Linked DNA regions of Homo sapiens. The protein of the gene in region 1 interacts with the protein of each later gene in a biochemical or structural test. Each region holds a gene or a part of one and is shown in the gene's direction. Other genes may lie near its edges.

The links.
Region 2: the proteins of NLRP3 (region 1) and NEK7 are reported together in a solved structure, tested with the Homo sapiens proteins (one study listed by IntAct).

The regions. Positions count from the first base shown.
Region 1 is NC_000001.11:247,439,449-247,444,717, forward strand, and holds part of NLRP3 (NACHT, LRR and PYD domains-containing protein 3), read left to right. Parts: exon of another isoform or gene 1-85; intron 86-4,523; coding exon 4,524-4,694; intron 4,695-5,202; coding exon 5,203-5,269. UniProt on the Homo sapiens protein: Sensor component of the NLRP3 inflammasome, which mediates inflammasome activation in response to defects in membrane integrity, leading to secretion of inflammatory cytokines IL1B and IL18 and pyroptosis.
Region 2 is NC_000001.11:198,159,998-198,163,497, forward strand, and holds part of NEK7 (serine/threonine-protein kinase Nek7), read left to right. Parts: intron 1-3,500. UniProt on the Homo sapiens protein: Protein kinase which plays an important role in mitotic cell cycle progression. Required for microtubule nucleation activity of the centrosome, robust mitotic spindle formation and cytokinesis.

The DNA.
Region 1 (5,269 bases):
GATGCCTCTGCCACACCATTGCCTTTATCTCTACGTGGTGTCTTCCCTGTGTCTGTGTGTGTCTTTCTCCATGTCCCAAGTTTCCCTGTGAAAGAACACAAGTCATGTTAGATTTGTAACGACCTGATCTTAACTAATTACATTTTCAGTAACCGTATCACCAAATAAGGTCACAATCTGAAGTACTGGGGCCTAGGACTTCCACATATAAAGTCTTAGAGGAAACAATTCAATCCATAACACCCTATCTATTGAAACTAGAACCATAATATAAATATTTTTCTGTGATATCCTTTTTTCATTTATCATGGATAAATTTCCATGCTGATTTGTGTAGATCTATCGATTGGGGCATAATATCCCATAGTGTGCTTTACCATAATTTATTTAATCAAATCATGCATTTTGGGATAACTGTTCTTTTCCACTATTACAAACAACTCTGCAAAAAGCACATTTGTATATATAGTTTTATGCATGTGTATTTGCTTTGAGATAGGTATCTATAAGTGGCATTAATCAGTCGAGACTTTTATGCATTTTATGTGTTAGGTACAGCCATACATGTGGCTGTGTGTTAGGTATAGCCTATGGGTTAGGCATAGCCTGTGTGTTAGGTATAGCCTATGGGTTAGGTATAGCCTACGTGTTAGGTATAGCCTATGTGTTAGGTATAGCCTATGTGTTAGGTATAGCTACATTTTTTTCTCTCGAACTTTGGGTCCTCATCTCTGGCTGCATATTGTGTACTGCCTGTCTCAATACTGCTCAAGGGTCACACATGCTGAGCATTTGCAACATTGGTTTAATTATCATACCCCACCTTCCACCCCCGTTCTCTGACCTGCTCCTGCCCTCTTCCTCCTGCCTCATTGAATAGTGGGGCTTTCCAGGAGGCTGCTGAGTGAGTAAACGGGGGACGGTCCTAAATGCTCTGCTTTCGGTTCCCTCTACCACTCATCACTACACCAGAGGGAACTTTTTAAGATGCAAATTTGAAAATATTGACCCTTTGTTCAAAAATCTTCAAAAGTTCTTCTCTGCAGTCAGAGTGACATCTTAGCTTGGCACACAAGGCTGTCCCTGATACTGCCCTCTCTCCTGCCATACCTTGCACTCCATTTTGAGTCATATTGGATGAGTTTTGTTTTGCTGTTTTAGAGATGGGGACTTGCTATGATGCTCAGGCTGAATTTGAATTCCTGGGTTCATCTACAGCCATACCACCCAGAGTGCCTGATCTCATCTGCACTCCTGGGCTCAAGCAATCCTCCCGTCTCAGCCGCCCAAGTAGCTGGGACTATAGGTGGACATCACTGTGCCCAGCTATGAATTAGTTTTGAAACATCTTGGTGGTTCTTTTAATCTTCCTTATTCTTGCTACTCTTTTCCTTTTGCCTGGAAGGTTACCCCCACTTTCCCACTTTCTACTATCCATCTAAGAAGCTCCTACTTATTTTTTAATTACTGTGATCCTCATTTTGTCCATTTAAAAGCAGGGATAAAACTAACATTCCCATCTTGAGGTTGTGATCATTCAATGAGATAACCCTGTTTAAAGTCGTCATCCATGTCAAGCACACAATAAATACTCAAAAAATGTTTGATCTTCTTCTTCAGATTCCTTCCTTCCTTCCTTCCTTCTTCCTCCTCCTCCTTTCTTTCTCTCTTTTTCTTTTTCTCTTTCTTTCTTTCTTTCTCTCTCTCTCTCTTTCTTTCTTTCTCTTTCTCCCTTCCCTTCCCCTCCCCCCCCCCTTTCCCTTTCCCCTTTCCTTTCCTTATTTTCCTTTCTTTTCTTTTCTTTTTTTAAGACAGGGTTTTGCTCTGTGGCTCAGACTGGAGTGCAGTGGTAGGATCATAGCTCACTGTAGCCTTGAACTCTCCTGGGCTCAAGCAATCTTCCTGCCTCAGCCTTCTGACTAGCTAGGACTACAGGTGTGTACTACCATGCCTGGGTAATGTTTAAAATGTTTAAAATTTTTTATGTAGAGACAGGGTCTTGCTATGTTGCCCAGGCTGGTCTCAAACTCCTGGCCTCAAGTGGTCCTCCCACCTTGGCCTCCCAAAGCACTGGGATTCAGTTTTCATTATGAGACAGTTTTGTGACATAGGCAGGTAGTTAATAAATAAAAATCCCCAACCAATTAACTTAATACAGTACATGGCAAGATATCCGTGCTTGGTAAATGTAGAGCTCAGTTAGGTGGATTGGTTGAAATCGAGATGTCAATCACATTCCTCTAATCCAAGGATTGGTTGGTGGGACATGGTTGTTTGATTCTTTAAACATTTTATTATGTGTTCAGTGTAACCGTTGCTTAATAGTTACCAGCATTTTCACAATTTGGATATGACGTTTTCTTAACAAAACTGCACCGTCTGTTGCAATTTCTACTACTACTGTGTAGTGCTCCCCAAACATCTGTTGAATAATCCATTCTACTCCTTTTTGGAAATAGTGGTAAAGCCTGCATAACTTTAATTACATAATTTAAAAAATATTTTCTCTTTTCCTCTTTGAAGACCATCCCCATTCTACTAGAATGTCCCTGGCCTTTGCCAGGAATGCTACTAATCCCTTCTGCATGTTAATTAACAACAACCCTCTGATAGAATTCTTACCGGGGATGAGAGCTTAGTAGAAGCCACTCAAAACTTGCTTTGTTTTTGTCTGTCTCTCTTGGGCTTCATTTGCCTATTAGTCTTACTTACTGTGTCTTTTCAGTTTGACTCTTCCTTAATTGGGAAGATAGAAACCAGTGGATGGATAATCACTTTTTCCTGCTGGTCATCTGTTCATGCTTTACTGTCTGAATACACTTTTTCTGTATTTCTATTTTTCCTGCCTCGTAGACACCAAAGAGCTTAAAAAACATGCCATTGCCAAGGACTCTGGCAGGAAGGAGGCAATCACCTGCGCTATTCCTGGCTTCATGGAATAGAAGCATCTGTGCTCCTAGGAATTACGCCACCAGTGATTTTAGAGCTCTTATGCTCTTCCTGGGTGATAGAATGGGCTTAATTTGACTCAAGAATAGTACATCAAAACTCTTAATTCCATCGAGATTGATGCATTTTTGGGGTTTTATGCTCTAAAAGGCCTTTTGCTGTGCAGAAGGAAGAGAGAGGTGGACAGAAAGGGCAGTGGGGAGAAGATGAGACTAAAAGGTGGAAAGTCCAGGTCTGGATCCCTCCCCACCACACACCTGCTCTGTGGCCTTGAGAGAAACATGTAATTTTTATAAGCCTTAGATTTCTAATATGTAAAATGTATGTAATAGTTTTAGCTGCACTCCTTCCTTGCCAGGTTGATATAATAATCAAATAAGACTGGTCTCTGGGTCAGGCACAGTGGCTCATGCCTGTAATCCCAGCACTTTGGGAGGCCAAGGTGGGTGGATTGTCTGAGCCCAGGAGTTTAAGACTGCAGTGAGCTGTGCACTTGGCCTGGGTGACTGAGCAAGAGCCTGGCTTTTTCTATTTATTTATTTATTTTTGAGACAGAGTCTCACTTTGTTGCCCAGGTTGAAGTGCAGTGGCAATCTCGGCTCACTGCAACCTCTGCCTCCCAGGTTCAAGCAATTCTCCTGCCTCAGCCTCCCAAGTAGCTGGGATTACAGGTGCCCACCACCACCCTAACTAATTTTTATATTTTTAGTAGAGATGGGCTTTCACCATGTTGGCCAGGCTGGTTTTGAACTCCTGACCTCGTGATCCACCCTCCCAAAGTGCTGGACCTCCCAAAGTGCTGGGATTACAGGCATAAGCCACTGCACCTGGCCTTATTTATTTATTTATTTAGGCAGGGTCTCACTCTGTCACCCAGGCTAGAGTGTGGCAGCGCAATCATGGCTCACTGCAGCCTCGACTTCCTGGACTCAAGCGATCCTCCCACCTCTCCAACGTGGTTGAGGGCTGCAGCGAGAAAGATGTGAAAGGGGCATTTGGGGGCGCAGGAAGGCGGGAGGTGGCAATTGCTAAGGGCCCCGCCGTGTTCCTGTCACAGCCCTAGCTACAGCTTAGAAGGTCACAATGGACGTTCACCTGTTGTCTTTGATGTTTAAATCAGCACCGACTTCCCATGAGGAGGATTTTTTTTTCCTGTCTCTCTTAAAAAAAAAAAAAAAGGCCCCTGCAGTGTGGGTGTCTGCAGTGTTACGGGGATTATTAGTTGAGGATAACCACTGGGATGTGTTTCTGGAAGAAGTGGTGCTGAGGAGCACTCCTGGCCGGAGGAAAGCTGTGTGAGGAGGAGGAGGAGTATGGGGTAACTGGCTCAGTTTGCCTTGGCTCTTTCTGTCGGACTCATACAGCAAAGCATCTGCTGAGACATCATTTGTGTCTCCTGTGACAGCCAGAGACAGCAGGTCTTGCTCTCCCCAGATCATATCTGAGATGCTGGCTCCTGCTCTCTGAGCTGAAGGCTGCAGCTGCTGAGAGAGGACGAGGCACTGAGTCAAAGCAGCTGCACAATGTTGGGGAACAGCTGGGTACTGAGGACTCTTCTCCCTGTCCTTCTACAGGTTGGTGAATTCTGGCCTTACGTCAGTCTGTTGTTCAGCTTTGTCCTCGGTACTCAGCACTAATCAGAATCTCACGCACCTTTACCTGCGAGGCAACACTCTCGGAGACAAGGGGATCAAACTACTCTGTGAGGGACTCTTGCACCCCGACTGCAAGCTTCAGGTGTTGGAGTAAGTCCTTTGGTTTATTACAGCAATGAGAACACATGGTGGCCAAGGGTGGAGGGACGTTTAGGCAGAGTGGCCACAAGATAATCTGTATCTTAGAAGTGAGGTGTCTTCTTAGTGTTTGCCTTGTTACAGGATCATGGGACTGGGAGGAGTCCTTCCAGATGATATAGATGTAGGAACTTGAGTCCTTACCATCACAGTTTTCTGTACCACAAAACAAGGAGGGCAGTATGACACTTACATTTTATGGAAATGTAGGGAAAGGCACAGAATTTGGTAAATCAATGAACAAACCACTGTTACTAATTTGATCTGTGCAATGCAGTGGATTTGAAAAAGAGAGAGAAGAATAATTACCAGCATACAAGGCTGCTTGAAGCTAGTTAGTCCTGTGCTCCTGTGCTTTTTTTTTTTCCACCTGAAACAAGACAGGCTAAGATGCTAAAATCTTGGGGAGCTAGGGGGATGGTTAAGGGGACATTTTCTTTAAATCACCCCCTTTTTGCAGATTAGACAACTGCAACCTCACGTCACACTGCTGCTGGGATCTTTCCACACTTCTGACCTCCAGCCAG
Region 2 (3,500 bases), about 49 Mb from region 1:
CATTTAAGTATTCTTTTTTTTTCCCCTCAATTATTGCGCATTTACTGAAATATAGACTTCTTTTTTTCACTTAAATATGTGGTCTGAGATATCATTAGAGACTTTTACAGTGTTTCCAGAACTAAACACTATTTTCCTAGGAACTATCTGATGTTTTAAGAATGTACCTCTGTAGTATTACAAATGTCGCCACCATTCAGGGTACCTGAGAACTGGGCCTGAGAGCAGGGCCCAGTTAAGTGTTAGTGATTACGCACTTTTGGGGAAAAAAAAAGTAGGTAATTCCAAAATTTCTTTCAGGTTTTGTTTCCCTTGATTTTTTTTTTTTTTTAAATAGGCTTTGGTATTTTAAAAATGCACAGTGTAGTATTTAAAAAATACACAGTGTAGCTGCAGCTGCAGCTGCACAAAACAGCACTCTGTCCTCATTCCCGGTTTCATTCACATTTAAGTGTTTACCCCTTCGAATTTTTGTTGGAAAACTACGAGGGTAGGTATTTCAGTGCATCGTCTATAAAACATATTAAACTTAATGTACGACTTAAGGGTGTCTTGGAAATGCCATGTATGATTACTGTTTGCTCCGAATTGTTTTATCAGCACTTCATCAGGATTTATGTAAATATATAGCAAGATGTTTTAAGACGCATTTCTTTACCCTTTTGAGACTTTTTCAATTTAATTCTCCCCCCTCCACCCATTTTTGTAGGGAATATGGATGAATAACATTTGGTTACATAATTGTAATCAAATATATGCATTTGTATAATATAATGGCAGTTCAGAATTTTTAAATTGATACAATTCAATCTCAGAGTTATAAAACTTCTAAACTGCTGAATTCTCCTTTGGTAATTAATAGTTTGATTATTCCTAGGTGTTGTGTATTTTCACAAAATTTTTTTTATTCTGAAGAAAACACTTACAGAGTATATTTCATGCTTTTCAGTGGGCAGTGGGAATGAGAAGGACAGATGATCATGAAGCATTCCTTAATATTTTTGAGCAGGATAACTTCTTTTTTAACCTTTGTCAAAATAACTGCCCTGCCATACTATTTAGGTAATGAGGTTATACAATGAGTGGTTTTGTTGTAATAGCTATCAAAGTGTTAAGCGGAACAATATATAAATGAATAAAACTGATTTTAGTGGTCTATAAAAATTGAGAAATACGTGTTTTCTGTTACATAATGGAAATAGGCCTTTTTGTAAATCTTATTAGTAGTCTTCTGTTGGTAGTGGGTAAGGGCTACTTTTTCAATCCAGTCTGCTTTTTTATAGAATAGTGATTCACAATTTTTTTCTCTGAAGGATCACATGGTAAATATTTCTGGCTTTGTGAGCCCTGTGATTGCATCTGCTGCCATTGTAGCCAAATACAGTATCTGACCAAGTGGGCATAGGTGTGTTCAAATAAAGCTTTATTTATACAAATAGGTTGGTAGCTTTCCCCCACTCTAGAAAATAATACCAGAGGTCTAAATGTGGTGCTATGCCATTGATGTTTGGGTTGATTCGGAATTTTCCACAACAGCGTTTTATAATTATTTTTGTGCTTAGACTCTTGTGACAATTTGTTGATCTTCCACAGTTCCCTCAGAATAATACCCAGCTGTCCATTCCCAAATTTTGTGTTTCATTTCAGAGTTTGTCAGCATAAGAACCTCTTTTAGGTTTATCCATGTTTTCAGGTTTCTTCACCATTCTTTGCTTCTGGAGGATCCCACTCCTATCCTGTGACATTGAATGAATGCCTGTCTGTGGCTCCCTGCTTCTGACTAAAGCGACATAGAATCTAATGTCAGTCATTTGTCTTTACTAAATGAAAACTACTAGACAAAGAAACATACCAAAACTTACTCATATGTTTCTTTGTCTAGTAGTTTTTATTTTAAGCCTACTGGTATGACTACCTTTGTCTACTTTAGAGGGAATTTTTGACATAAGCAAGGGGTTGGGCAAATTTTTTTCTTTTTAGGAAACATTAACTTAGTCTTTCAAAAAAGACTCTCCCCCGCCCCAGTAAAAAATATTGGAAAGAGCCTGTGCTTTAGCAGAGGGCCTACAGTCAAGGTATGTTTGGCCTGGGGTAGAGGTACTTCTGACCTTTGCTCTGAAAAGAATTAGCTGTAGACTTACCTGGGTGTAGCTACTGAGTAGCATAGAGCAGAATGGAAAATGCAACAGCTTTGTGAAAAAATTACACAGTACACTTTCTCAGCTCTAGTCAGGAGTGGGTTTTGTGTGTGCTGGACTTTTGACCCCTTAGCCCTCGGGGAAGCCCAGGTAGGACCTGGGACAATCAGAATTCCTGGCTAGTTGCCACCAGCTACAAGCAGTCTCTTCTCTTTATCTGACCCTGCTGCACATATATTATCATTATCTGTGTTTACCATGATGTGGAAAAGACTAGGCAGAAAACTCCAGGGTTGTCATTGCCTACTTTATGACCTTGGTTGAGTTGCTCATTTTATTCAGACTGTAGTTGTCGCAACTCATAAAGTTGCCTTGAGGAGTAAATGAAAATACCTTTGTAAATGTATGGTAGCAGGCCCAGTGTTAGTTTCATTTCACTTACTTCTCTATTCTTAGGACCTTCAGGGGTGGGAAACACATCTCCTGTTGTCAGTTTGTTCTGATGACAGGCCCTGTCACCCACTCTGCCTTGGCCCAGTTTTGTCTTAATGGGCTGCTTCCCACTTCTGCCATTTCCACTTCCTCTGCTTGAATTCTCCTTTTCCTTTGCCCTGTGATTTCCATATTCAAAATTTAATGGTTCCTACATTTGAGTTAGTTTTTATGACTTTCTTTGGAGTGTGGGGAGAGCCAGCAAGCCATAGTTTCTCAGGCAGAAAAAGGCACAAGAGGCTTGGGGGGTTATATTATGGACTACAAATAATGTGAGTTGCAAAAAGATCTTTAAATACAGATTCAAAAAATTGGCAAAATTAAAAATGTTCTTCCTAGCATGCTTAAAATTGTTTTTTTAAATTGTTGAAATATTTCCCCTATATCCTTATATTTACCTAGGTGAATTACTATACATTTTATTATGGTTATAATCATAACAAAGACATATGTCCTTATATTATGGTTGGAAAAGTTGAATAGATGTGTTTATGAAAAATTGTTATACTTCTAAAATGTAATGAATTCCTAATCTTGTATTGCCTTTATATCTAACTGCTGGACCATATAGTAAAGTGATATGATACCGGCACAGTGGCTCATACTTGTAGTCTCAGCACTTTGGGAGGCCAAGGTGGGAAGATTGCTTGAGACCTGGAGTTCAAGACCAGCCTGATCAATATAGTGAGACCCTGTCACTACAAAAAATTTAAAAAAAATTAGTTGGGCTTGGTGGCACGCACCTGTAATCCCAGCTACTTGGGAGGCTAAGGCAGGAGGATTGCTTGGGCCTGGAGGATGGCTTGAGTCTAGGATTTCGAGGCTGCAGTGAGCTGTGATGATGCCACCGCACTCCCACCTGGTGACAGA